4 linked regions of the Homo sapiens genome follow. Changing the gene in region 3 together with the main gene of any one other region gives a genetic interaction. Each region holds a gene or a part of one and is shown on either strand. Other genes may lie near its edges. The genes, in order: HDAC2, ING3, KDM6A and ATM.

What was found.
Region 1: changes in KDM6A (region 3) and HDAC2 together harm fitness more than expected from each alone (negative genetic interaction), as found in Homo sapiens cells (one large-scale study listed by BioGRID).
Region 2: changes in KDM6A (region 3) and ING3 together harm fitness more than expected from each alone (negative genetic interaction), as found in Homo sapiens cells (one large-scale study listed by BioGRID).
Region 4: changes in KDM6A (region 3) and ATM together harm fitness more than expected from each alone (negative genetic interaction), as found in Homo sapiens cells (one large-scale study listed by BioGRID).

The regions. Positions count from the first base shown.
Region 1 is NC_000006.12:113,962,887-113,971,015, reverse strand, and holds part of HDAC2 (histone deacetylase 2), read left to right. Parts: 5' UTR 1-107; coding exon 108-159; intron 160-286; exon of another isoform or gene 287-536; intron 537-737; exon of another isoform or gene 738-1,315; intron 1,316-2,356; exon of another isoform or gene 2,357-2,382; intron 2,383-8,129. UniProt on the Homo sapiens protein: Histone deacetylase that catalyzes the deacetylation of lysine residues on the N-terminal part of the core histones (H2A, H2B, H3 and H4).
Region 2 is NC_000007.14:120,961,447-120,969,575, forward strand, and holds part of ING3 (inhibitor of growth protein 3), read left to right. Parts: intron 1-3,295; coding exon 3,296-3,392; intron 3,393-3,809; exon of another isoform or gene 3,810-4,025; intron 4,026-4,256; exon of another isoform or gene 4,257-4,387; intron 4,388-5,179; coding exon 5,180-5,251; intron 5,252-6,082; coding exon 6,083-6,202; intron 6,203-6,487; coding exon 6,488-6,645; intron 6,646-7,564; coding exon 7,565-7,758; intron 7,759-8,129. UniProt on the Homo sapiens protein: Component of the NuA4 histone acetyltransferase (HAT) complex which is involved in transcriptional activation of select genes principally by acetylation of nucleosomal histones H4 and H2A.
Region 3 is NC_000023.11:44,877,330-44,885,458, forward strand, and holds part of KDM6A (lysine-specific demethylase 6A), read left to right. Parts: intron 1-8,129. UniProt on the Homo sapiens protein: Histone demethylase that specifically demethylates 'Lys-27' of histone H3, thereby playing a central role in histone code. Demethylates trimethylated and dimethylated but not monomethylated H3 'Lys-27'.
Region 4 is NC_000011.10:108,322,115-108,327,566, forward strand, and holds part of ATM (serine-protein kinase ATM), read left to right. Parts: intron 1-3,195; coding exon 3,196-3,430; intron 3,431-3,943; coding exon 3,944-4,111; intron 4,112-5,452.

The sequences.
Region 1 (8,129 bases), on a different chromosome or scaffold from region 3:
CCCACGTTTCCCTCAGCCCTTTTCTCTCCCGGCCGAGCCGCGGCGGCAGCAGCAGCAGCAGCAGCAGCAGGAGGAGGAGCCCGGTGGCGGCGGTGGCCGGGGAGCCCATGGCGTACAGTCAAGGAGGCGGCAAAAAAAAAGTCTGCTACTACTACGACGGTGAGCGGCCGGGCCGGTGTCGGGGTGGGCGCGCGGGGCCGGGCGCTGGGTTCCGCGGCTGCCGTCGCGAGTGGGCGCCGGGGCTGAGGGGTGGGAAGGAGGAGGGACCGACATTTGGCCGCATCTTAACCCGTTCCCGGCCCGGCACAGTTAGAACGAGACCCTCTTCCTGGCGCAGCCCCCGCGGTTCCTGCGGGCGGGAATCAGGGGGCCCGCCCGTCTTGTCTCCTGCCTCTCCCCCTTCGGCCGTGCAGTCCGCAGCCTCGAAGGTGGCCGCCGCTGGGGACGGCGCCGGCCTACCCCGCCTTGGTGGTGGCGGCGGCGAAGGGGGCGGCCCATTCTCTCCCTTCTCCCGCCCACCATTCGTGGCAACGCAGGTTTGGGGTGCCCCGCGTCGGCCTCCTACCCCCTCGACCCGTCCCCCGCGAGGCAAAATTTCTATCCCGGCCTTGACTCTACACAAAGCCCCGCGGCCGCGAGAGCTCCGCCCCTCCCGTCCCCTTCCCTCCTCCTCGCCTGCTCGCCTCCCCTACCCTGCGTTCGGTCTGGCCGGAGCGTCTTCTCCTTCCTCGGCTTACCCTTTCCCCGGACCCCTCCTCCCGGTGGGCGCTGGAGAGTAGTTACTGAGGGTGGGGGCTCAGGTCGCGTGTGGCTTTATCACACCCATGTTTTGCGTGGGCTCCAACCCTCTCCTTTGTTCGCTGGGTTCTTTGAGCGCGTCTTTCTCAGGATTCAAATGGAAGGGCTTCACTTCCTCAATAATAGTTCGGGTTTTCCAGTTTCAGGCAGAAAGACTTCGTAGGAAATAAGAGGTGGTAGGGAGATGTGGAACTGCTACTGCTTGTGTTGTAGATCAGACTCCATGGGTCCTGGCTTGCCTCAGAGAGGTGGTTACCACCCACTTCTTTGTTGCTCTTTGTTCGATCAGGAAATAGACCCTGCTTTGGGGATTTAGAGAGCATTGGTATCTTGCAAAGGCTGTTCCTAGGTGGTGGGGAATCCTGGTATGGGAAAACTTTGAGAAGTGGGAGAAGTGCAGAAGTACTAAATATTCTAATGAGGTAAATTTGAGGTCACCGTGTAGTGAATTATAAAAGTCAGATAATTTAATTATCTTAAGCATTCTATAATTTGGAGTATGAGCAGTAACATTAAATCTTCGAATCCTGTTTCCTGTGTTTTCTTGCTCAATGGAGTAGTAACCTGTTATACAGATTTCACAAAGGCTTGGTAAATAGTTTATAGTAGGTTACTCTTGAGAGAAGGGATTCCAAAATTTAACAGAGAATCTATCCTAGGCTCCTTCTCCTGAAAGTCCTGTCTGATTTGTAGGAAGCAATACAAATTTTGGAAGCTGTTTCCTACATGTGGTGTATTGTAAATCACAAAATTTTAGAGAAGTAAGACCCCAGAGCACCAGCTCAGAATAAATCTACTTTAACTTGTAAATGACCGTACTGTCTCTTTTTAGTTAAAAAGGATTAATCTTTTAATGACTGATACATATAAAATAACCACCTGTGTCATTTGGGGAAAATCTGAAATCTTACAGAACAAATCTAAATTGATCTGCGATAGCTAGGACAGAATAATAACAGCCCTACTTTTAAAAATGATTTTTCAGAGGACTAGATATGCATTATATAAGTTGATTTGAAATTATGCCATCGTGGAGGGGTGGAGATGGAAATACATTTTAATTTCAACATGATTTACATTGCATATTTTGGGTTATTCTTGCCCTGCATTCCCTGATCAAATTGGAAAGGAAGTAACCCTGCGTATAAGTTAATTTGTAAAATTACATTGTTTCTAAAGTTTAGAGATTTATCCTTGTCAGGGCTTGGAGTAAAGAGGAAAATTTTGGTTAGGGAAAGTGGTACTGAGGTCCTTCTCGAAGCTGTCAGTTGGTGTTGGTAGTGATGGGCTCTGAGGAAGTAAGCTGCTTGTAATTTGTTGTCACCACAATGGAACCCTAGAACCAGGAGGGTACACTTGAGTAGCAGTTTCTGAACAGCGCTCTTGTCCTGGGCCCATTTATGATAACCTTCGTTGTGGGAATGGGAGCAGGCACGGGTACCCGGGAAAGGATGCAAGCTTGATAAGTAGGGTGGAAATATTTGTCTTGTGATTGTGACTTAATATGATACTTTATTGTAGCCCATTCACCTGCTTACGTGATGGCCAGCAACAAGTGAATAGCTGATAGTTTGGAAATCTCTGGTGGGTTATTTTGTCTTTTGTCTGTGACTCGTTTGTTAAAGTGGAGTTCCTAGTTGCTTATGTTTCACATACTCTTTTAATTTTTGTGGGAGGGAATTAAAATATTTTGCAGAGATTATTAATGTTTATATTATGCTAATTATTAATATGTGATAGTGTGCTGACCTCATCCAAAAACTTATATTTTTATTACCAGAGAACATTGTTTTGTCAGCTTACAAAAGTAGCAATACTAATTCTTTTTTTATTGTGAGAAGAGAATGCAAGGAAAGGAGCTTCTGTATCAAAGAATCGTGACTTTAAGGTATATAACATGGATTGGATTGGGAATGGGTTATATCTGTAGTAATAGGGTCTGAATTATCTGCTAGCCTAGGTTAGATGGTTTTAACTTCTTGGTAAAGGAAGTAGAAGGAAGAAAGTGAGTGAAAAAGAAAAGGACGGAAGTAGCAAATTCTATAACCATAGGAATCCTACCTTTAGGCTTCCTGGGGCTGTTAGGCACACGGAGCCTCTTGGCCACACAGAATGTCTGCCACTGAGGCTGTTTGCATCTTAATGAAAGAACTTTTAAATATATACATATTGTTCTCTGCACGTTATGTAATCTTCAGGTAACCCTTTAGGTCACTGAAACGTTGGTCCCAAGGGAACCTTCAGACATTGATGGATTAGGTATCCTTAAACCTTTGAAGAAAAGTAAGAGAAGTTATTACTTCTCTGACTGTAGCTATTGATCCATGCCTCCAAATTCCCAAAAACATACTTCTGAATCATGTTCCTTCTTTATACACTAGAAGATCATCAAGAATCTGTAAAATGATACAGCTAATTAGATAGTCACTAAGATCCCTTCTGGGCCTTAAAACGATGTGATTTTTCTCTACTTAAATATAATTAGCAGCTAAGCTGTGTTAGGCTCTAGTTATACCACTCACATTTTTAATACTGTATCTAGACATGTTTATGCTTTGTTTTGAATTAATCTTGAGGCCAAACATATTTAGTGCTTGTTTTTATGGTGTATACAGTATAATAGGGTTTATATACCTAATTTATGTAACTATACACAAATTTCTCTGTGCTCTATTTTTTCCTCCTCTGAGAGGGATGCATAATCAGTTTTGGAGACAAGTGGTCCAGAAAAAAACACTCAAAGACTGTATACAGATAAAACTATATAAATACAAAAGTTATCAAGATTAGGCCAGGTGTGGTGGCTCATGCCTATAATCTCAGCACTTTGGGAGACTGAGGCAGGCAAATCACCTGAGGTCGGGAGTTTGAGAAGAGCCTGGCCAACATGGCGAAACCCCGTCTCTACTAAAAATACAAAAATTAGCCAGGCGTGGTGGCAGGCACCAGTAGTCCCAGTTACTCGGGAGGCTGAGGCAGGAGAATGGCTTGAACCCAGGAGGTGCAGGTTGCAGTGAGCCAAGATAGTGCCATGGGCAACAAGAGCGAAACTCCGTCTCAAAAAAAAAAGTTACCAAGATGATACCTCCCAACGTACTCCTTCTTCAGCAAATTATAGAAATTCTACTTGGCAGCCAACGATTGTCAGATTTTCTTAGACTTGTATTTATGAGTAGTACCAAAGTCTTTTGCTGAATAACCTTTAATACAACTACATGGGTTCTTAGCTGTGGTATAAATCTTTATTATCCGTGAAATAGGTAATAATTTCTTTGGAGGCAAATAAGTGCTAAATTAATTATAGCAGCAGTTCATAAATACCAGTAATACTAATTGCACAATAAAACATGACTAAATAAGACTGAAATTTTCCTATACTTCTCTTTCCCCAGAAATCTTTTGCCTCTCTTTTCTTTCAAATTTTACCTCATCAGAGATGCTTTCTCCTATTACCTAAGTCCCTGTTATTGCCTTATTTTTCTTCCTTTTGGTTGTACCATATAACTTTTGTCTCTCTCCTCACTATAACATAAGCTTCATTAGGACAGTCTGTCTGTTTTGCTTGTGTTTGTATCTTCGCCAACTACATTTAAAAACGTAGCTTTTTTTTTTAATTAGTGATGAATAAATTATTAATTCCTTATACTTTTTTTTTTTTTTTGAGATGGAATTTTGCTCTTATTGCCCAGGCTGGAGTGCAGTGGCGTGATCCCAGCTCACTGCAACCTCCACTACCCTCCCGGGTTCAAGTGATTCTCTTGCCTCAGCCTCCCAAGTAGTTGAGATTACAGGCACGTGCCACCACCCCTGGCTAATTTTTGTATTTTTTAGTAGAGATGGGGGTTTTACCATGTTGGCCAGGCTGGTCTCGAACTCCTGACCTGGGGTGATCCACCCACCTCAGCCTCCCTAAGTGCTGGGATTACAGGCGTGAGCCACTGTGCCTGGCCAATTCCTTATTCTTATAGATAGAACGCTTTCATATAACGTTCCCTCTAATTCTTGAAACTACTCTGAACTACATTTAGGTAGGATGGGTGGCATTTTGGCATTTTTGGTATTGTTTAGATGAAAACAGATTCACATTTGTTTGGTGCAGTCTACCACTTTTCCTTTTCCACACTGACTGTAGTTTTAATGTTCAAGGAGAGTTCAACATCCGGAATCTTTATTTTTCTTTTTTCCTTTTCAAAGTGTTTCCTCTGCTACCAAACAAACAAAACTCCTTAACAAAAACTTTAAATGCTTCTGTTGACAAGTCCTTAAAGGAAAACACTTGGGATTGGAGAAGGCATCTCTTAGGGAATGTTAATAAATTCAAACTTGGAAGAATTCAAATCAAGTCTAAGGATTTTTTTGTACTGGTTATTAAGCCTTATTCCTCTGTATTTCAGTAGCAGTCTGCTTATTGTTACTTGTTCATTAAGCCAGCTTTGGGTTCAGACATATCAAATAGGCTTAAAGTTCCTACTGTGTGCCAAATAGACAAAAGATTGCTCAAGTCCTAAGAAGGAAATAAAAGACTGCAGGTATAAAGTAAGAGAGGGGGCCGGGTGCAGTGGCTCACGCCTATAATCCCAGCACTTTGGGAAGCCGAGGCGGGCAGATCACAAGGTCAGGAGTTTGAGACCAGCCTGGCCAACATGGCGAAACCCTCTCTCTACTAAAAATACAAAAAAAAGTTAGCTGGGCATGGTGACGGGTGCCTGTAATCCCAGCTACTTGGGAGGCTGAGGCAGGAGAATCGCTTGAACCCGGGAGGCAGAGAGGTTGCAGTGAGCCGAGATCATGCCATTGCACTCCAGCCTGGGTGGGTGGCAAGAGCAAGACTCTGTCTCAAAAAAAAAAACAAAAAAAGTAAAAGAGAGGGGACCTTTGATAGTGTAATCAGAAAAGGGAAGACCTGAAGGAAGAGAATGGGCCAGCCTTAAAAAGAGTTTACTACATAAGATATTACAAATAGCAAAGCCAGATAGTTATTAATAGAACTTGGTGCACTTAATGGGAAGGAAGACAAGGAAAATGTGGAGTCCCATGTTAGGCAGTAAAAAGTGGGACTGCACAAAACTGTGTAGTAAGAAATTTGACTTTACCCAGAGGTGGAAAGCCATTGAAAGTTTCTCAAATAGAATGCATTCTCTCAAAATAATTGGTAAGGAGTTGTGGAATATAGGCTGGAAGCAAGAATTGAACACATATTGGTCCATATAAAATGTAATGGTTGCATTTTAGATAGAAATAGACATATTTAAGAGAGATTTGGGCCTCAAACCAATAGAACTTTTTGATGGATTAGAAATGGAGTTGGAGCTGAGGAATGGTGTTAGAGAATGAAGGATGACTCCTAAGTTTCTGGATTGAGCAGTTAGGTGGTATGTGGTACTACTCACTAAGATTGGGAATACAAATAAAGAGCTCTGTTTTGAACATCTTATATTTGAGATCCTTATTGAATTCAAGTGAAAAGACTGAGAAGAGAGTTAACCTCTGTGAGTTTATAATCCAGAGAGGAGAGTCTAGACATAGAAATTTGGGATTTCTCAGCTTATATCAGGTGAAGTATTGAGACTGAAAAAGATACAGCATAGACAGACGACTGGTCCCAGGACTTAACTCCCGAGAGAAGAGAATTTAGGGCAGAACTATTGTTCACTGATGAACCCAAACCCTTAGAACAGTACCTGCTTGGCACATGGTAGGCTCTTGATTTATTAAATGAATGGCTGAACTGAAAACCCTTGATGTTTAAAGGTTGGTGGAGGAGTGGCCTTGGGGTACAAGTAAAATCCCAAGAAAATGGTATTATGGAAGCCAAGGCTCCGAATGTCTCAAGGAGGAATAACCTCCTTGAAATATGTATTAAAGATGTGTTAATATGTATAAAAAATGGATAGTGGGCTAAGTAGTCTGGAAGATGAAAATAATAAACTTTTTTCTTTTCTCTTGTTTTTTTTTTCCTGAGTCTCTTTTTGCAGTCAACTTATCTTTGTGGCTAAAGGTACATTTCACAGTTCTGAAATCCAAAATGACCTGAAAATTGAAAAAAATTTTGGTAACTCATTTGGAATCAAAATCTTAACCTGAATCAATGTGAGGCTATTTATGATCTTTATTCCTCTGTGAATACCGTGAATATTCACACTTTTTTGCTGTAGAAATATTAATGTTTGATTATATCATGCCACCCAAACTCTAGGCTATTACATAATATATGGCAGGTGTACCATATTATCTCTACAAAATCTGAAAAAGTGTAAAATTTGAAACATATCTAATTTGAAGGAATATGGATAAGAGATTGTGGACCTTAGTAGACACTTCCATTCTGTTAGTTTCTTGAAGAGTGAGCAATTTGTAAAATTTTGCAGATAAATAATTCTTTACAGTAATTTCTTTGCATTGACAATTAAAGTTTGTTGTGTTCAAGGAACCACCTTGAGCTGATTTTTCTGAATGTTTATTTCATTGGTAAAGTATTTTTATGTACAGGTTGAATATCCTTTATCTGAATTCTTGGGACCAGAAGTATTTCAGATTTGGGGAGGTTTTGCAATATTTGTAATTATTTACCAGTTAGCATCCCTAATTCGAAAATCAAAAATTTGACATGCTCCAGTTAGCATTTCCTTGACTATTAAGTTGGTGCTCAAAACAGTTCAGATTTTGGAACATTTTGGATATCAAATTTTTGGATTAGGGATAATCTGTATTTTGATGCAAATCAGTAACATTTAAAATGCCCAAATTATTAATACATTACTGACCATTTAAATGATGAATAAAAATTGTAGGGTCTTAAAACTTCTTAGCCTTTTTATACTTTATGAAAAAGTGGGCTGGGCACAGTGGCTCACATCTGTAATCCCAGCACTTTGGGAGGCTGAGGCGGGCAGATCATCTGAGGTCAGGAGTTTGAGACAAGCCTGGCAAATATGGAGATACCCCGTCACTACTAAAAATACAAAAATTAGCCGGGTATGGTGGTGGGCGCTTGTAATCCCAGCTACTTGGGAGGCTGAGGCAGGAGAATTGCTTGAACCCCAGAGGTGGAGGTTGCAGTGAGCCAAGATCACATCACCGCACTCCAGCCTGGGTGACAAGAGCGAAACTCCATCTCAAAAAGAAAACAAAGTGGATGCCTACAAAGTAGCCATCTAGAGAATTGTGAGATACAGAATTAGTGGGAAAAAGTTGGAGATGGTTATTTTATAACGCCTTTATATTTTAGAAGAATTCTTTTTTTTTTTTTTTTTTGATACAGAGTCTCGCTCTGTCACCCAGGCTGGAGTGCAGTGGCACGATCTCGGCTCACTGCAACCTCCGCCTCCTGG
Region 2 (8,129 bases), on a different chromosome or scaffold from region 3:
TTTATAAATTGATTGTATTGGAAGCAGTAGATCATGTAGAGACTTTAAAAAAGCTGTATTTAGTTTTGTTTGGGTCCATTAGTGATACACTTTAAATGTGAATATTAGAAAACCAGAGAGTCAAAAAAGAAAGAGTCAAAGATTACAACTCTATGCAAATATTATAGGATGAAGGATTTTTTGTTTGTTTTGTGCAGAGGGGCCAAGTATGACTTAAATTTGCTATGATCATGAGTGTGTTAACAAGTAATGTTGGTAGAATATCCTTTGTCTTTAAAGAGGCTAGAAAAATTATAGGAGTTTAAACTTAAAGCTGTTATGATTTGGGGTTGTAGAATATGATTTGGGATTATAGGGCAAGGAAACTTTGTTTATAGCACTTGTTGACATTAACTGGGAAAAAAAGAAATAATTAGACTCTGTGGTTAGCCCTGTTTTAGGAATCTGTGGCTAATGGAAAATCTCTCAATTGGATCAGTACCCTCTTTACTATTGTAAATCAGTCTTATGAAAGCAGATGTTTGTGGAAGGGTGAGGTAACTTACATCCTTGCTTTGCTTGATGCCTGTGGGGACAACATGGTGATCAGCTAGAAGAGGTGCTGTAACCGTTCAGAATCATGTAGGTTGAGGGAATGCACATGATGGATTTCAGGCAAGTTCACAGCTCTTATTATGGCTGTTTAATATTGTTTAAATATCCTAGTGCTTTATAGCTTAAGTTAATTCTTGTGGTCAATGGGACTTTCCAACTTCTAATTTGATTTAGTACAGCAGTAGTAAATAGAAGAAAAATAATGCTCATTGCCTAATAATTGCTTATAATATTAATCAGGTCATAATCTCTTTTACATATGAGGAAGTAAGAATGATTGGAAGCCGTCTTATAAAGATGCCTACCACAAGTGGTTAAGGCTTTTCTGTCTTTGTTTATTTTAACTATGAATTTGGTTTTTAGAGTTATTAACCCTTTAGGTTCTAGTGCCTTTTCTGAGCTATCTAGTATTGAAAGTCTTGTCATTATTTTTAACATTTTCATATGTAGTGAACTTTATCAATAATATATTTAATAAAATGAAACAATCCTTAAATGCAGAGGTGAAGTGAGTTAGGGCAAGGTGTATGGTATGAAAAAGAAAGGTCTTTATCTCACCCTAACACTACCCCCTCAACCTAACATTCTTGCTCACTGTGCTTTATATACATATTACACGCTACATCATACTTTGTTTTTCTCTAAGCATACTGTTTGTCTTTCTGTCTCTACATTTTTTATTGTGATTCCTTTTTTCCTTCTATTTGAATACAATCCATCTTCACCGTCTTAATTCGTACCTCCTTCGTGTCTACCAGTGTTACTTTTTTATGTACAACTTCTGACTCTTTTTGAACTGTTGCTTATTTGTGACATCTAGACTATATTTTTATCCCTTATTATATTAAAAATCATATATAAATCTTGATTTGTCAGCTAAATTCTAATTCCTATGAAGGCAATGATTCTCTTCCATTCTTCATATATCCTCCATTTAATCCAGCACCAAGCACGTAATAGCTCAATATTTATTATTAGTATAATTGTAGGTACAAAAAGCAATGGAGTGTTTTCGTTGCATTAGTGGTCTTGGAACTTAAATATGAATATTTTTTCTGATTTCCCTTGAGATTAAATTTTGACAATGAAAGAGGTATGCTCAAATAACAGACGTCTGTGTTCACACTATTATTGGAAAGGAAGTTCCATTAAAGGATGCTCAATTACCTGCAGATTCTTTGAATAGGAGCAAGTATCCATAATATGTGATGTTATAGGTTTTTAAATATTCTAGAACTCTGAAAAGTAATGTGTGTGTAAAGGTAGAAGGAAAACTGGCTTTCAGTTTTTGAAAAAATCACAAACCAACACCCTAATGATTGTTGTTAATATATAAAATACAAATAATAGGACAATATTACTAGTTTTTATACTTGAGTTATATTATTCTGAAGAATGTTTTTCAAAAAAAAAACAGTTGTTTTCTGCATGCAGAAAGTTCAGAGGTCAATGTCAGGTAAATGGCAAAGCAGAATTTGTTACAAATAAAGTTAAATTTGGTTTCTGTAATGCATTAGCTATATGACCTTGGGCATATTACTTAAGTAACCCTTCCGAGCCTTAATTTCTTCACCTATAAAGTAGAGACAGTAATAACTTCAAAAGATCAGATCGAGGGCTAGAAAAGATAGGTCATCTGATGCGTCAAGCACATTACCTCCTCTTCATAGGCATCTAACCCATGCACATTGTGTTTTGCTACCTTTCTCCCCTTCTTCCTCATGTTAGTTACACATTATTTAATTCTAAACCTTACTTAAAATGTTGCCCTGGTAGAGTATCATAGCACATGTTGATATCTGTAAGAAAGTTATTTCTAATTCTAGCAGTAATCCAGTGGGAAACTAGACTTAGAAAAGGATGTTATCAATAATGTGACATGAATATTTTTCAAAGAATTTGTGTATTTTTTGGTTTCACTTCAAAGTAATGAGTTTGAAAAAATATTAAAATATTTAATATTAAGTTTAAAAAATACATTAAGACATTTTTTGTTAGTTTGAAGTGTCATATAATTTTCTGAAATTAGTCAAAAGATCTCTCAGTGACAAAATAAAATTTTGCCAAGTTAACTAGGGAAATAGTATTATAAATAAAATAATTTTAACCAGATCCTTTGAGGAATGGAGTTTTCTGGCTAACAATCCCTTTTGTTTCACCTCTTCACATAAATGTTTACAAGCATTATGATTCACTCTCATGCCTTAGAGTAATAGATGTATAGAATATAGGAACTTCTTTGTAGACTGAGGATCTTTCATCATTCTAAATAATAGCTTTTATCGTATGACAGTGTGGATGATGGCCTTATAAGCAGGAGGAGATTAGGCTCTAAGTAATCACAGGGCATATTATGAAAAGTGACCAGCCTCCACCATCCCCTCCTCCCATTCTCTAATCCCTAATCAGTTTTGCTTTAATTTTCATGTCCTGACTTCTGAAAATGGAGTATAGAACATTTCCTAACAAGTTGAGAGTCTGGGTCTTAGAACTTAAAATTTATTGAAGGAGACTTGGGAGATTATTTAGCCTAACACCCTCATTTTATAGATTAAAAACCTCTGAGGCATAGATTAATTGACTTGCTCAAGGATACTAAGCAGATTCACTAAAAGAAACAAAAATTTAGGTTTCCTCATTAAGCTGACACTTTAACAGTGTCCCAAATTTTGGTGGTTATCTTTGATCTTCTTTGAAACAGGTAGATCGACACTTGAGAAAGCTGGATCAGGAACTGGCTAAGTTTAAAATGGAGCTGGAAGCTGATAATGCTGGAATTACAGAAATATTAGAGAGGCGTAAGTAAAATTTACAGTTTTCCATCAATATTGGACAGTACATGTGCAAATCGCTGAGAAGACCTTGTCCCACAGAGGCTTTTGAAATCCTGCCCTTCAATGGATGGTGGCATCCAGGCCAGATAGCTTGGACCCTAACAGTTGGAAATGTTTGGGTCATGCATACTGAGAGAGATAATATAGGATATCATCCACTCACTCTTTATGAAACAACATATTAAATCATTTTATATCCACATATACTAGTAAGTTGAGTGGTAAGAACAAATTTAAAGAAATGTAACCATCGGGAGACAAATTAACCATCTTGCATTAAGTGTGTTGACTTTACTCTGCCTCTTTATACACTTAAGCTTTGAGGAAAGTTGTTAGTTTCTCTTCTTAAGAATTACTTTATGGCTTTTCCTTAACTGCATATACTGAAAAAGACTCACATTGGTTTCATAACACTACCTCTTTTTCTTAAAGAAGTGTTTTCTTCTTTCCCTTAGCAGCAAGAAACCATTTTGATATTTCTTTGCAAGGCTCTATTTGATCTCCTGCTATAACTTACCCCTGTCACTTCTTTGGTGTGACTTCCCAAAAATGGAAGCATGAGCACTGTTTCCTTAACTAATTTAGCATTTCTTCAACCTAAATAGGTAATGTACATAAAAGCAGTTAGTGTGGTACTAGGTGTAGAGTAGGCACTCACTAGATGTTAATTGAACCAAATTAATATTATGGCTAATTTCTACTAGAATTTAATTAAAACTTACAAACCTTCTTTTTCTTGGTGCATTTCAACAGTAAGAATATGTACCTGTTTCTACACACAGATGAAAGATTTCTTTACAGTGCCAATCTATGTATCTCTCTACTCACTAGAAGTCAGCTAGGGAAGCCAATCACAGATCTGTCTTGGTATCCATAGTTGCATTTTTGTGTTCAAAAGTAGATCCATCACTTTAGATAATCATCCTATTTATTTGTGATACTTTTCTTCTGGAGGAACCCTATATAAAGATAATAAGTATTTTGAGACAAAATTAAAAATTCTGTATCTGCTTTGATTTTTTAAAAATGCTGATGATAGCTGTGAGTAATGATAATTCATGCCTATTCAGTACTGCAGGAAGGTTAATAAAGCATCCTCTCTAAGGACACAGACATATGAAACAAAATTGGATCAAGTTATAAAAACTGCTCCACCCTGTGCCCTGCCATAATTTCATCTCAAGGGATCAAAAATAAACCCAGAAAAATGTATTTAGAGGTATTTTAAAGCTTGGTGTTAGAGATTCTATTCCTCACTTTTTGCGAACAAAATCCCTAACTTCTTTTAGGAAGTCTTTATTATCATAATGTCATTTTAATGATCAAATAATTTTTTTCATATAGTAATGTCCCCCATCACGTAGAACTTCAGAATCTCCCATTAAAAGGTCTTCAACTCAGTAAAACTAGGTTGACTCTTACCAGTAATGAGATTACAATGTCCATTCATCCATTTATATGGCACCCACTATGGTGAATTCCCTAATTAGACACGAGTATGCCTTGAGCCATTTTGTACTTAAGATTAATATTGGGAAAAGGATAACTTATTGTTTAGAGAGAGGATAACTCAGTGTGGGATGGACAGTGGTGATCCTCTAACATGTCTGGCTAAAATAAATACAGGCATATGCATCAGAACTTGCTAGTCCTCTGCTGGGTAAGGGAACTCATTGCCTGTAGTTGAGTGACATGTGAAGTTCTGCGGTGACATTTAATGGTGGTGTATCTCTGTGCCTCTCTTCTTTTAGGATCTTTGGAATTAGACACTCCTTCACAGCCAGTGAACAATCACCATGCTCATTCACATACTCCAGTGGAAAGTAAGTTTGGTGTAGTGCAGCTAAGTTTTAAAAACAATGAAAACCTTATTATATCACCTATATGTTCTCTTTTTTTAACTCTACACAACCAATTGAGAAATAAATCCCTTCTTTTTTTTTCATTGCAAGTACTGGCAGACTTGTCTTTTTCCTTGGGGGGAGCATATGTGATTCGGAAATGAGTATTCTGTTTTCTCTTAAATGCGTAGAAGGAGAATGTATAGTACTAATAGCATATATTCCCTTCATACACATACCTGATTCTCCTTAGGGAGCTTTTCAACTGAGCATTCTCCTTAGGGAGCTTTTCAACTGAGCCAAACAATAAGCTATTTTGTAATAGGCCCTTTGTCTTTTTCATCCTTGCTTCTCCAGTGCTTAACCTAATGTTTGGCATATAATTAAGTCTGAATGGTTGGTAAGTCAGTGAGTGGATGAATTGTTAGTTAGATGACTGGCTGGCTGGTTGGTAACAGTCAAAAAATGACTATATCAGTACATCTTTTGACACATCAATTTGGTGGGAAACTATTTTAAGTGGTAGATTGTGTTTTGAAAACAAAATTTCCCTCACATTGTATGTGAGCCCATGGTGTATCTTGGGTTATCTTTAGTACTTTGCTAGAAGTTTTTTAAATGGTGGAGAAGTCTACTCTTAATAAACATGTGACACAGAGTTCTGCTTGTCCTGCCTTCTGAGGAAACATCATGTTCTGTATTTTATGAGGAACCCAGATCATACTGTTTCACATTTTAACTGGATATAAGTATTATGCCTTGTCCATAGTTCTCTAAAGTTTAAAAACACATGAATTTTTTATTTATATTTAGAAAGGAAATATAATCCAACTTCTCACCATACGACAACAGATCATATTCCTGAAAAGAAATTTAAATCTGAAGCTCTTCTATCCACCCTTACGTCAGATGCCTCTAAGGAAAATACACTAGGTAAGTTAATTTTCTTAAATATGATTGCTTTGTTTGTTTGTGTTAGAGTAAGGGGAAATAAAGTGTTTCAGGATTAATGAATCATACAGTTTCTTTACCTGGTTAAAGTATACATATGGAGAAAGAAGAAAAAGGAAAACCAAATACATTATTCAGTTGACTTAATGTACAAGTGACATTAAAAATTTTAATGATTATATGTCTGTGCTGGGAAATAATGTAATTTAGACTCACTAACATTATGTTCTCTGCAACCATTTTTATTTCTTTTTTACATCTACACAGGTTGTCGAAATAATAATTCCACAGCCTCTTCTAACAATGCCTACAATGTGAATTCCTCCCAACCTCTGGGATCCTATAACATTGGCTCGTTATCTTCAGGAACTGGTGCAGGGGCAATTACCATGGCAGCTGCTCAAGCAGTTCAGGCTACAGCTCAGGTAAAAAGTAAAGGGTTTAGAGACAAAATGTTACATTTTGTCGGAATCATTGGAAACCTAATAGAAATAACGGGATGTGAACAAATAGTTTTCTAACGTTGTATATTTTCATTTTTAAGTCATGATTTCACGATATGTGATATTTTATTTAATGAAATAATACATAGGAATTGCCTGATTGATAATGAAAACTAAAAAATAGGTTTATCATGCGGATTACATGCAGACCCTTCTCACAATAACTGCTCATGTTGCCCATGTTCTTGACTGCAGTCCACAGCACATGCTAGCATAGTTCTTCGTTCTTTCTGCCAGTTCCAAGGCTTCCCCTGTAGCCTTGGACTTAGGTCATCTTGAGTTTGTTCACTTCTGTATAGTTTGCCTATATTCCAAATTAAGAAGCTGCCCATCCCATAGTTTATATTCTAACTGTGTAAAATCTTATTTTAAATCTTTAAATGAAAAAGGTTAGGCCAGGCATGGTGACTCACACCTGTAATCCCAGCTCTTTGATAGGCCGAGGCAGGTGGATCACTTGAGGTCAGGAGTTCAAAACCAGCCTGGTCAACATGGTGAAACTCCATTTCTACTAAAAATACAAAAAAATTAGCTGGGTGCCTGGTGGGTGCCTGTAATCCCAGCTACTCGGTAGGCTATGGCAGGAGAATTGCTTGAACCTGAGAGGTGGAGGTTGCAGCGAGCCAAAATCGTGCCACTAGACTCCAGCCCAAGCGACAGATTGAAACTCCACCTCAAAAAAAAAAAAAAAAAAAAGCTTAAATTCCAGTGATGAAAATAATAGTTTAAACAATATAAATTAACATTTGATAAACCAAAATAAAACTATAATTTGTAAAACTTGAAAAAGAAAATCTACATATTTACATATATTGATGCTATCAATGAATGTCTATTTAAGATGAAGGAGGGACGAAGAACATCAAGTTTAAAAGCCAGTTATGAAGCATTTAAGAATAATGACTTTCAGTTGGGAAAAGAATTTTCAATGGCCAGGGAAACAGTTGGCTATTCATCATCTTCGGCACTTATGACAACATTAACACAGAATGCCAGTTCATCAGCAGCCGACTCACGGAGTGGTCGAAAGAGCAAGTAAGTTTTATTGTTACAGTAGCCCTATACCTTTACTGAACACTTGGTCTACTTGACACTTCAGCCAGGCCTCTCTATGTTAAAGGCAGGATATAACGGATTAAAATTAACCTTGCAGAGGTAGGGAGACATGCGGTTTTCATTTTATAGTGCCATACTTTGAAGGTGTCAAGTCTTTAAAAAGTGTTAGAGTTGTTTTTAATTTTTCTAGAGTCATAAATTGAGTTTGTTAATACATGACTTCTTTTTATCTTCTTTTATTCATTAAGATAAATCATTTTATGGAACTGCTTTTCATTTATTACCCTTTATTTTGCCATGTGTTTCAAGGTAAATTAATGCAATGCAAATTATATCCTGGTGATTTTTTT
Region 3 (8,129 bases):
ACAGCTAGAGCCTGCGTAATTAGAGTTCTTGTGATATAGGGTGATCTTGAACAGTGCTCTTGAATGCTGACCCTTAATCTTCTGGTAATGTAATAATTCAAGATTCTTATTTTTAAAATTTCAGTGGAGTTATCGAAAACTAAGCAAAATATTTTAACAGAAATTAACTTGTGACTTTTTTAGTACATTTTTGAAAACCTTTTGGGTTTTTTTTTTTTTAAGTAGGGTAAGGATTTGAGTTAAAGTAGAATATATACGAATATATACCATAAATGTAGTAAGTTTAAATATAGTAGTACTACCAAGTATAGTTATAGTAATAATGCTAGGGGACTGGGGAATCTTATCTGCGTCAGGGAACTATTGCTAAAATACACAGTTTTGAACAAAGTATCTTATTTTTAAGTTTTTCTTAAATACTCTTATTGGAAATTTTTTTGGTAATTCTATTAGTAGAAAGATTATACAAAATACTTAGAAGTTATAGATTGTATATCACTTAAAAATGTATGTGCTTTTTTCCGTAGGACATATTAGCATTAAAACAGTTGGTGTTTTAAATTTTTTTGATAATAGAAGTAGTTTAAGATCCATTGAAACATATTTTCTTAAATTTGGTTTGCTGGCGTGTTTGGTAGGGGAAATTATTAGGTCAGTTCTAGAGGTGGCTTTTTTAAATTGTAATATTTGGATGTTGATTAAAAACATTCTCATTTATGTGTGTTTTTTGTTTGCTGGCACTTAAAGGCATACAGGTTGAGTATCCTTTATCCAAAATGCTTGGAACCAGATGTGTTTTGGATTTGGGATTTTTTTGGGTTTCAGAATATTTGCAGAATACATACCAGTTGAGCATCCCTAATCTGAAAATCTGAATTCCAAAATGCTCCAATGAGCATTTCCTTTGAGTGTCATGTTGGTACCCAAAAAGTTTTAGATTTTGGATTTTCAGATTAGGGATGCTCAACCTGTAAATTCATTTCCAGTGCTAAAGATGGCTAGTGTTTTGGTTAGAAAAGTCATGAGAGCCTGTCTCAAAAAACAAAAACAAACAAAAAAAGAAAGTAGCCATGGAAATAATGTCATGCTTTGTGTTTTAAAGAGTTTTCTAGTTTGGAAGATTGTCTTCTGAACACTTGCAGTCTTAATTTTTTACGTGGACAAAGTCTTATATACTTGGTATTTCCTAAAGTTTTGATTTGTGCCTGGTAATAAAGATATACTAAGATTATAGAACATATTTGCATATTTGGTCACAAATTAGAACTGCAGCAATACATAAACAGGCACTTTTAAAGTTCTGGTTTTCTTTTTCAGTAAATAGTTCTTTCTGTCGAATCAATTACAAATTGAAATAACTAGAGAGCATTTGACTGCCACCTCTAGATACTTTTTGTTTTTTTTTTTAATTTGAGACAGTCTCACACTATCCCCCAGGCTGGAGTGCAGTAGAGTGATCTCGGCTCACTGCAACCTCGGTCTTCCAGGTTCAAGTGATTCTTATGCCTCAGCCTCTTGCGTAGCTGGGATTACAGGTGCCTGCCACCACACCCGGCTAATTTTTGTGTTTTTATTAGAGGTGGGGTTTCACCGTGTTGGCCAGACTGGTCTCAAACTCCTGACCTCACGTGATCAGCCCACCATGGCCTCCTAAAGTGCTGGCTTTGCAGGTGTGAGCCGCCGCACCTGGCCAATATCTTAAGCTGTTAAGAAAAACTGCCTGAGAGATGAATTTTTGTGACTTAGGTGAAGTGATAGGTCATGCACTTTAAACCAAAATGAAAGTTCATTGCTTGGCTAGCTGCAGAGTAAGTCTTTTTCTGACTTAAATTATGTAACATTTAGTTTTTGTTTACATAGTACCAATATTCTGCATCTTTGAAAGGATTTCTGTTAAGTTTATTTTTACTTTGAAATTCATTGTGATGCGTTGAACTCTTTGAAATTGATGTTAATGACTGCTAACACTGCATTATTAATAATATTTTTGAAATGTGTTATCTAGAGAGCTAATTTATGTTAAGAAAACACTACCAGCTTGTCTAAGAATTGAAATGGTGGTTAGGCTGTTTAGGACTCACATGTATTATTTGTAGATTAGTTAATTAATAAAGTTTATTTAATGAATGCATAATTGACAGTCTTAAGTACTCATATTGAAACTTCACATATAATTTTATCAGTTTTCCACATTGGTTTGTAAATTATCGTGACAGTAAATTAAAACAGTATATTAATGTACACTATGTGCAAGCCTTCTATGTAGATAGTATGAAGATAGCATAGATATTTCTTGCCCGTGTTGAACTTAAATTCTTTAAGAGGGGTGAGATAAGTTTAAGGGTGACTAACACAGGACCATCTTTGGGAGAAGAAAAATGTGAAATATTCTGAAAGTTTATGAGAAAGGTAAATTTAACAATTCACAAGTTAGAATGGCTCTTAAAGATGGGGATTGTTTGTTGATTGTGTTTCTTGGAGATGGTATTTCTTGATTTAGATGTTAGCAAGGCATCTTATAATTTTGTTTAGGAAAACATGATTTAAAAATCACATTTTAAGGCTGGGTGTGGTGGCTCACACCTGTAGTCCCAGCACTTTGGGAGGCTGAGGTGGGCGGATCACTTGAGGTCAGGAGTTTGAGACCAGCCTGACCAATATGGTGAAACCACGTCTCTACTAAAAATATAAAAATTAGCCGGGCGTGGTGGCGTGCACCTGTAGTCCCAGCTACTTGGGAGGCTGAGACAGGAGAATTGCTTGAACCTGGGAGGCAGAGGTTGCAGTGAGCTGAGATGGTGCCACTGCACTCCAGCCTGGGCGACAGAGCGAGACTTCATCTCAAAAAAAAAAAAAAAAAATCACATTTTAGCTTTTAGCAGATGTTCAAAGGATGATCTGCTGTGTGTTCTGTCCTTCTTTGATTTCATTTTGTAGTAATATTTACCTTGTTATGAGTTCTTAACTTGAGATTCTTAAATGAGTGTTCATGGGTCAATTTAAATTCTCTGACAGAGTTTGGAAGGACACTCAGGATGACTTAATGGTCATCTTGGAGTACAAGACACTTTTGGGGTGAGAAGGAGGGGAGATTTTAAACTGTTTTATAGATTTCTGTACTGCTTTTTTTTTTTTTTTTAACACCGTAGACATATATTACCTTAAAAATAATACAATAAGGCCAGGCGTGGTGGCTCGTGCCTGTAATCCCAGCACTTTGGGAGACTGAGGCGGATGGATCAACTGAGGTCAGGAGTTCGAGACCAGCCTGGCCAAAGTGGCAAAACCTCATCTCCACTAAAAACACAAAAAATTAGCCAGGCGTGGTGGTGGGCGCCTGTAATCCCAGCTACTTGGGAGGCTGAGGCAGGAGAATTGTTTGAACCAAGGAGGCGGAGGTTGCAGTGAGCCGAGATCGCGCCACTGCACTCCAGCCTGGGCAACAGAGCATGTCTCCATCTCAAACAAACAAACAAAAAAAAGTACTCTGATAGTACACCAGAATGTTATATTTTGGTTGACTAAAAATGGGTTTAAACTACCATGTCTATAGTTAGAAGAGATACTTGTAAAGGCCTTTCTTGCATTTTAATTACAGTCTGAAGTTGGGATACTTTTGAACTTGATGTTCCTTCAGTGAGGGTAGGAGTGAATGGAGTAGAGATGTACCCAATTAGGTCCTATTTCTTTGTGTTTTAGATGGCTTTGTGACAGTCACTGCGCTCATTCTTCATTTTGATCTTTAGCATTTCATTGCTGACTTTATTTTGAGTCTGATTTGGCACAGGCTGATACTTGGGACCTGATTAAGAACTGTAACCTGGGCCGGGCGCGGTGGCGCATGCCTGTAATCCCAGCACTTTGGGAGGCCGAGGCGGGCATCACGAGGTCAGGAGCTCGAGACCAGCCTGGCTAACATGGTGAAACCCCGTCTCTACTAAAAATACAAAAATTATCTGGGTGTGATGGCGCGTACCTGTAATCCCAGCTACTCGAGAGGCTGAGGCAGGAGAATATTGCTTGAACCCAGGAGATGGAGATTGCAGTGAGCCGAGATCGTGCCACTGAACTCCAGCCTGGCGACAGAGCAAGACACCATCTCAAAAACAAAAAACAACAAAAAAACTGTCACCTGGAAGGGTGGGAGTAATCCCTTGTTAGACAGTTTTAGGTTTCTGAGCTAATTTGTAGACTGCTTGCAACTTTCTTCTATAAGCTTTTATTATTTTTTCTCTTACCTATTTCTTCCTTATATTCCATCATTTGTTTACTTCTGTATATTATTAAAACTGTTGGTGGTGTTCCATTGTGAATGTATTCTTGTATGCTTTTTGTAATTTTCTCTGTGGTACTATTTTGTCTTTTTTTTTTTTTTGAGATGGCATTTCACTTTTGTTGCCCAGGCTGCAGTGCAATGTCGCAATCTCGACTCACTGCAACCTCCGTCTCCAGGGTTCGAGCGATTCTCCTTCCTCAGCCTCCTGAGTAGCTGACATTACAGGTGTGCACCACCACGCCTAGCTAATTTTTGTATTATTAGTAGAGATGGGGTTTCACTGTGTTCGCCAGGCTGGTCTCCAACTCCTGACCTCAGTTGATCCCCCCGCGTCGGCCTCCTGAAGTGCTGGGATTACAAGCGTGAGCCACCATGCCTGGCTGAGTATTTTGCCTTTGTTAGAATAAATAGAAGATGCTGCTGCTAAGTTTATTCTCAGGAAGAAAGTTGGGGTTATACTTAAGGGTATTATATAAGGTCATCTAATTCATTTTAGTTTAGAACAGTGGAAGAAATTGTTTTAGACAAAGGGTTATTTTTAAACTACAAATTTATTACGTGTTCATTAGATTTTTCTCTCTTTTTGAAAAAAAAGTTTATTAGGAAAAATTTTCAGTGTTTTCAGAAAGTATTGCAAATCAACCATCACCCAGCTTTAATAGTTTGCAACTCATGACCAGTCCTGTTTCATCTATATATATTTTGCCCCTCACTCATGTTATTTTGAAGCACATCTCAGCAATCAGTCACAGCATTTAATCCATAGATGTTTGTTTCTGAAACATAACCGTGATGCCCTTATTACATGTAAAATAATTTCTTAATCTCAAATATCTGTGGACCTTGTTTTTTGCTGTATGGAAGTTAAGAAATAATTGCTTGGAAAATGAGTAGAAAACATGTTTAGCTGAGTATGTGATGTGAATTTTGTTTGTATTTTGATACTGCTATAGTGTTCTGTGATAGAATATTACATAATATGTGACACAAGAGGTAATTTTTCCTGAGAACTTTATGAATCATAGTTGCTTGAGTCTGGATAGTTTTTATTTTTAGGGAAAATTTGTTTTCAAGATACAGTAGTTAAATAAATATTTTAGGTTTCTGAATTTCAAATATCAGAATGAGAACTACAAAAGCTTTTGCTTTGCTTGATTGATTGGTGAAACATTTGTTGAGCTGCTGTGGGTGAGGGATTGTGTCAGGTTCTGGGGCAACCAATAAGACCTGGCCTCTGTCCTGCAGTCAGTCTGTTGGGAGAGGCTGACAGACTGAGTGATCATATGATGTATTAAGTGTAATAATAAAGATACATGCAAAGTGCTGTGAGCTCTGAAATGATGGAGTAATTAAAACATTTAAAACTTTTTATTATGCATCATTTAAAGTATGTACAGGTATTGAAGGTAGTTTAATGAACTCCTGTTTTCAACGGTTCTCCACATTTTGGAGCAGTTAAGTTTTTTTTTTTTTTTGAGGCAGGGTCTCACTATGTCAGCTGTCACCCAGGCTGAGTGCAGCGATGCTATCTCGGCTCACTGCAACCTCTGCCTCCCAGGCTCAAGCAATTCTCCTGTCTCAGCCTCTTGAGTAGCTGGGACTATAAGCGTGAACCACCAAGCCTGGCTACTTTTTTGTATTTTTTTGTAGAGACAGGGTTTCATTATGTTGCCCAGACTGGTCTCTAACTCCTGGGCTCAAGGTATCTGCCCGTGTCAGCCTCCATAGGTCCTGGGATTACAGGTGTGAGCCACTGTGCTGGCTGGAGCAGTTAGTTTGTTTTTTGAGACAGAGTCTCGCTCTGTCGTCCAGGCTGGAGTGCAGTGGTGTGATCTTGGCTCACTGCAACCTCCACCTCCCAGGTTCAAGTGATCCTCCTGCTTCAGCCTCCCGAATAGCTAGGATTACAAGCGTGCGCCACCATGCCTAGCTAATTTTTTTGATTTTTAGTAGAGATGGGGTTTCACCATGTTGGCCAGGCTGGTCTTGAACTCTTGGCCTCAAGTGATCCTCCCGTCTTTGTCTCCCAAAGTTCTGGGATTACAAGCGTGAGCCACCCCGCCTGGCCTGGAGCAGTTAGTTTTGACTGGAGAAGTGACTGAGGGAAACTGCACAAAGATTCAGCATTTAGCCTTGGTTATGAAACATGTAGAAATTTACCAGACATGTAGATGTAGCAAGAGGAAAAAGAGGGTAAAGAGTTAGAAGTATAAACTGAGCGTGGAGGCTCACGCCTGTTGTAATCCCAGCACTTTGGGAGGCCGAGGCTGGTGGATCACCTGAGGTCGGGAGTTCGAGACCAGCCTGACCAACATGGATAAACCCCATCTCTACTAAAAATACAAAATTAACCGGGTGTGGTGGCGCATGCCTGTAATTCCAGCTACTTGGGAGGCTGAGGCAGGAGAATAGCTTGAACCCGGGAGGTGGAGGTTGTGGTGAGCCGAGATTGCACCACTGCACTCCAGCTTGGGCAACAAGAGTGAAACTCTATCTCAAAAAAAAAAAAAAAAAAAAAAAAAAGAGTTAGAGGTATAAAGTTAAATGGTGTTTGAGGAATTGTGAATAGTCAGGTATGGGTAGAGGGTAGCATGTTTCAGTGGGATTGGGAAAAGATAACTGAACATGTGAGAAGCCCCATCACTATAGGCCGTAGGATGTTTTGGGGCATTGTTAAACTGAACTCTCTAATCAGGTGAAGTGACATGACCAGAAGTAGGTTTTATGGGAATATTACTGGCCACTGTGAGAAGGATATGGTGTAAGGGAAAGGAACTTCAGTACCGATGGGTAGATAGCAATGCATGAATTTTAGGATAGAATTCTGTTCCTACCACTTACTAGATGTGTGATCCTTGGGCAAGCAAGCATCTTTCAGAGCCTCAGTTTTCTTATCTGTAAAGTAGAAGTAGTAATACATTTCCCGCAGACTATTGCATTTTGTGTTAGGGGAAAAAATGTAAAGTGTGTGGCATTGGGCTTGGTGCATGAAAGGTGCTCAGTATAAGATAATATCTTGGATAATGGTAACGTCTTGGAAGAGACGAGTTTAAACTAAGGCTGTGGTTTAGGAATGGGGTGAGATGGAGGCAGACTTAAGAGCTCTTGAAAAAGGCCTTTTCTTGGCTTTCATAACATCCTTGCTACTTTGACTTTGTATCTGACAACATCTCAGTCTTTGCAAGGATGCTGTGTTTTAGGTCCTCTTTACTCACCCTGTTCCCAATTTACATACATGTTTGACTGCCTACTTGACTACCTTGGTATCTTGAAGGTATCTCAAACTGAACATATGCAAACTGAATTTATAATTGTCTTTAATATTCCTTGTCTTAGTAAATGTCACTTACCACTACCCATGCCAGAAACCTTGGAATAGTTGTTGACATCTCTTTTTCTCAATTCCTAATCACCCGACCTCATCATTTCTATTTTTTTTTTTTTTTTGAGACAAAGTCTCACTTTGTTACCCATGCTGAGTGCATTGGCATGATCACTGCTCACTACAGCCTGACCTCCCAGGCTCAAGTGGATCCTCCCACTCCAGCTACGTGGGACTATAGGCATGTGCCAGCACGTGCAGCTAATTTTTTTTTTTTTTTGTAGAGATGAGGTCCTTCTTTGTTGCCCAGGCTGGTCTTGAACTCTGGAACACAAGTGATCTTCTGGCCTTGGCCTCCAAAGTGCTGGGATTACAGGCATGAGCCGTTGTGCCTGGCCTACATTTCAAATCTCAAATCCGTTTCCCTCCATCCCCACTGCCCCCATCCTAATTGCAGCCATGATATTGTCTTTGACTTTTGAAATACCTTCATGCAATTTTTTGAATATAGGTATACTTGCACATAGTACA
Region 4 (5,452 bases), on a different chromosome or scaffold from region 3:
ATTGTTGTATACCTAGTGTTTTTGTTTTGTTTTCTTTTTTTTCTTTTTATGTTTTTTTGAGACCAAGTCTCGCTCTGTTGCCCAGGCTGGAGTGTCATGGTATAATCTCAGCTCACTGCAGTCTCCACCTCCCAGGTTCAAGCGATTCTCCTGCCTCAGCCTCCCGAGTAGCTGGGATTATAGGTGCCCCGACAATGCCTGGCTAATTTTTCTACTTTTAATAGAGACGGGGTTTCGCCTTGTTGGTCAGCCTGGCCTCGAACTCCTGACCTCAGGTGATCCACCCGCTTCAGCCTCCCAAAGTGCTGGGATTGCAGGCGTTAGCCACCATGCCCGGCCCCCAATGTTTTCTCTTCTGGTGACTGATAATTATGTTTAGTAAACATTCAGTGGATAGTGGATGTCAGTTAATTTGTAAAAGGTGTTCAGAAGGAATTGCTTCTTATAATGGTGAGAGGGAAATGATCCAGGGATTTTGGAAGATGAAATAGTATAGTTACTCAGGATGCTGTAGATCTAAATTCTTTCCTTTTATCAAGATATAAGTTGATTAGCCCTAGAGAATTGTGCTTTTATTAAACATTTTCCAAAATAGTCACTGTAAAAATTCAAGTTTAAAAAATTCAGCTTAAAAGTGCTTTTCTCTTTATAACTTTTTCCCTGGCCCACCCAGATAAAATTGTTTCCTCATGTTTTTGCACAGCATGTTACACTCCATTCGGTTTTAGCACTGCATTGCATTACTGTCATTTTATCTCTGCCTTGCTACTAGATAAAAGAAGTGGAAGAGTTGTGTAAGGGCAGCCTTGAGTCTGGCAGGATGACAAAGTAAAGTGTTTTGGGTCCTCAGTTTCCTCATTTCTAAAGTCAGGGATTTGTATTCGATGGTCTCTAAAGCCCCTTTTAGCCCTGCTATTTTGAATTACTATTATTATTATACGAGGGAAGAAAGAGGATATAAATGACTAAGGTCACTCTACCTTTATGCAAAAATAAAATTTGGAATATGTTTTGGAAGTAGAAAAGAGAAGGAAATTTTAGAGTCAGAAGAAAATAATAATAGTTTTTTCAAAATGACATAGCAGAAGACATACATATTAATGTGGCTTAGGAGGAAAATAAAGGAACAAAAGTCTTTTCTGCTTTCATTCATAAGTACATTGGCAGTACTTACTGCCAGAAATCAAGAAATTTTTCCTCTGAATGAAAGATTATCCTGCTGAAAAGAGTACAGAATTCTTTAAGAAACAGTGAATAGAATGGTAGTAACCAGAGGCAGGGAAGGGTGTTGTGGAGGGAGAGGATGAAGAGGGGCTGGTTAATGAGTGAAAAAACACAGGTAAATAGAAGAAATAAGATCTAGTGTTTGATAGCACAATAGGGCAACTGTAGTTAACAGTAATTTACTGTATATTTTTAAATAGCTACAAAAGAAGATTTGGAATGTTTCCAACACAAATGATAAATGTTTGAGATCATGGATATCTCAATTACCCAAATTTGATCATTACACATTGTATGCTTGTATCAAAATATCACACGTACCTCATAAATATGTACAACTATTATGTATCCATAAAAATTAAAAATAAATTTTAAAAAGAAACACCTAAAGAATAATCTGGCTGTTTCTTTGGTAGAGAAATAGGAAGAAGAGAAGCAGAGGGAAGGTTGGATGAACTGGTGCACAAATGCTTATGCTCTCAGATTACATTCCATTCATATACATCAACCAAAACATTAAATAATAACAAACTAAATGCAGAAGCAGAGATAAGAATTCATCTCGTTCTGTTAATCCAGACATTAAAGAGATTTGCAAAAATGCAAAACAGTGCCATGCTCACTAAGTTTTGTTTTGTTTTGGGAAGTATACAGTTGAAATTCTTTATCTACAGGTTTCCATCTATGGATTCAACCAACCGCAGATCAAAAATATTTGAAAAAAAAATTTTAAAGAATAGGGTATAACACTTATTTACATAGCATTTACATTATAGTAGGTATAATATGTAATTAGAGATTTATGTATAACCTGTGCACATTCTCCTATTACACGTAATCTAGAGGTTATGTGTAATACTTTTTGGAAATGTTTAATAAAAGCACAATCTAGAGGTTACGTGTAATAGGAAAATGCCCTGCCATTTTAAATAAGGGACTTTGAACATCAGCATTATCAAGGTGTCTTGGAACCAATTTTCTGCAGATACAGAGAAACTACTGTAGTTATTTTTCCTAAAAATTGTTATTTATGATATATAGTAGATTTATTATTTTTGAATAAATTAATACATTTTAGATTTTTCTCAGTCTTTCTAATATGATATCATATCTAATATCAGTAGATATGGTCCAACGATCGAAAGTTCTTTGGGGTCTTCAATAATTTGTTTGATTGTAAAGGAGTTCCGCAAAAAGTTTGAGACCTGCTGTGGTAGGGTCATTTAGAGAGGAATTGAAGTTTTGGTTCCTAGCATTTTTGTTACTGTTCCTTCCCTATCAAGCAACTAAAAGAGCTTTCATTTCTTAGTCATCACTTTGTCATCTTACTCTCCCTGCTTCCTCTTTCTTATTTCTTTCAATAAATGTCCCTGAAGGATTGGGTAGTATTTCATAGTTCAGTTATTTGGGAAGGATACTATTCATATAAACTAATTGTGCAATATGCCTTTTCTGTTCCTTTAATAATGTTGGTAAATGAAACCTTTGCCAGATGCCAGCTTTTCCTTCACTGGATTGTGATTTTTTTGACAGCTATAATTATGCATCAAGTCATCCCCAGTAGGGGGTCCCTCATTTCCTTGCTGACATGTCCTCATTACTACAGGCAGTATTGAAGCAGGACTAAAGATGGAGGCATTCTTTATGATAGGTCTGATGAATATGTTCTTGTTTCAGAAGAGTATTTAGAAGGGCTGCTTTTTGTAATGTCAGAGTATTAAAAATTTTTTTTGATGTTTGTCATCTGTGACCTCTCTGCTAATAACTCTTAAGAGCTCTGACCGCATAGCATTTTGTAGTTTTCTAAATTTTGATCCATATGTAGGATTATTTACAAGTTCTAGTCTTGTCACTACAAAAGTTCCTTTGTATTATTATAATATTATATCGTAAGTTCCAGAACTTACATAGTTTTTTTTTTTTTTTTTTTCATTTCTCTTGCTTACATGAACTCTATGTCGTGGCATTCAGATCAGTCACACATAGACAACTCTCTGAAGTATATATTAAGTGGCAGAAACACTCCCAGCTTCTCAAGGACAGTGATTTTAGTTTTCAGGAGCCTATCATGGCTCTACGCACAGTCATTTTGGAGATCCTGATGGAAAAGGAAATGGACAACTCACAAAGAGAATGTATTAAGGACATTCTCACCAAACACCTTGTAGAACTCTCTATACTGGCCAGAACTTTCAAGAACACTCAGGTAAATACAATTTAAAACTATGTCATCTTACCTCTTGACTTTCCTTTTATTATTTAAAAAACAGAAAGCCTGAGGGAAAAAGAAATGTCATTAAGAGATAGAGATCTCTATTAATATATAGTAAAAATAATTGTTTAAGAGTTCCCATTTTGGAATTAGATCTGACTTTTAAGCCTTGGGCAAGGGTACTTAATCTTTTCTCAACCTCAATTTCCTGGTTATAAAATGAGAAGATACGTAACTTACTATATTGATAACAATTCAGTGATTTTATATACTGTGTGTATGTACACACAGATACACATACATACATATAGAGAGAGACAGACAGACAGACAGATAGGCAGACGTGGGGTGGGGAGATGTCATGCAGACAGAGAGGTCCTTAAGATAGTCCCTGACAAGTAGTTAAGTCCTCAATGAATGGTAGTTGCTGCTTTCATTATTATTATTATTCATGGTAGTAGTATCAGTAGTAAAAGTATTTATTCCCATATGTCATTTTCATTTCAGCTCCCTGAAAGGGCAATATTTCAAATTAAACAGTACAATTCAGTTAGCTGTGGAGTCTCTGAGTGGCAGCTGGAAGAAGCACAAGTATTCTGGGCAAAAAAGGAGCAGAGTCTTGCCCTGAGTATTCTCAAGCAAATGATCAAGAAGTTGGATGCCAGCTGTGCAGCGGTTTGTTTTTTTTATTGGCTGGATTAGTGTTTTACTGTTATTTAAAAAAACACAAATGTACTTTAAAATATTTTTAATAACAATTTTATTAGAGCCTTGAAATTAGTAATTTATTAACAAGATATTGTAAAACTAGTCTTGAAAATTAATTTGTAAATGAAGTTTAGAAACTTTTTCCTATATATCACAATTCTATCAGTCCATCATGTGGTCGATTCATTTAATATATCCCAGTATTAAGCCTTTAACTTCCTATAGAATTCAAGAAAGGTATGTGGGAAATGAATGAAATAGCTACTCTAAATTTGAAATGACAAGTGAAAAAAGGGAAGAGGAAATGAATGAGAGAACTAAATTAGAAAATAAAAGCAAGTTGGGACAATTAGGTTGTCAATCCAAATGCTTTGAAAATATCACATCTAATATTTTATCTAACATTACCTGTTGGTTTTTGCAAACTTATGTTGCTACTTCAGCTGTAAACCCAGCATACACACTGGATAAAGTAGAGGCATTGGTGTCCCCAAGGTTTGTCTACAGTGGTGTCCCACAGACATGTACCTGCTTAGTGAATATCAGCTCACTGTGCTTTATTATTTATTTATTTATTTATTTTTTGAGACGGAGTCTTGCTCTGTCACCCAGGCTGGAGTGCAGTGGTACGACATCGGCTCACCGCAACCTCCACCTCCCTGGTTCAAGCAATTCCCCTGCCTCAGCCTCCCTTGTAGCTGGGATTACAGGCACATGCCACCATGCCCAGCTAATTTTTTTGTATTTTTAGTAGAGATGGGGTTTCACCATGTTGGCAAGACTGGTCTCGAACTCCTGAGCTCAGGCAATCTACCCGCCTTGTCCTCTGAAAGTGCTGGGATTACAGGCGTGAGCCACCACGCCCGGCCTTTACTGTACTTTTTGATGTTGGGCACTCATTGTATAGCATCTTCTGTTATTAGAGAAATCATTATACCAAAGCACTGAGTGCCAATATGATATGTGTAAATATTGCTTAATAGTATTGGCCCTGAAGTATGTGCTGTCTGGAGTTACCCAACTTCCTTGTACCTCAGTTTTCTAATCTGCAAATTGGGGTAATAATAGTACTTATTTAATAGGATTCTTGTGAGAATTAAATGAGTTAATATATATAAAGCCTTTACAAAGTGTCTGACATATATAAGTACTCAATAAATGTGACTTGCTCCAATAATGGCAATAATAATAATAAACAGAGGATGATCATTTCCTACATGGGATTATTAAAATAGTTGTATGGCAAAAGCAGATGAGGAAAAACTTTTTTTTTCCCACCCACCAAGGAAAAACATTTTTAACCTGCTT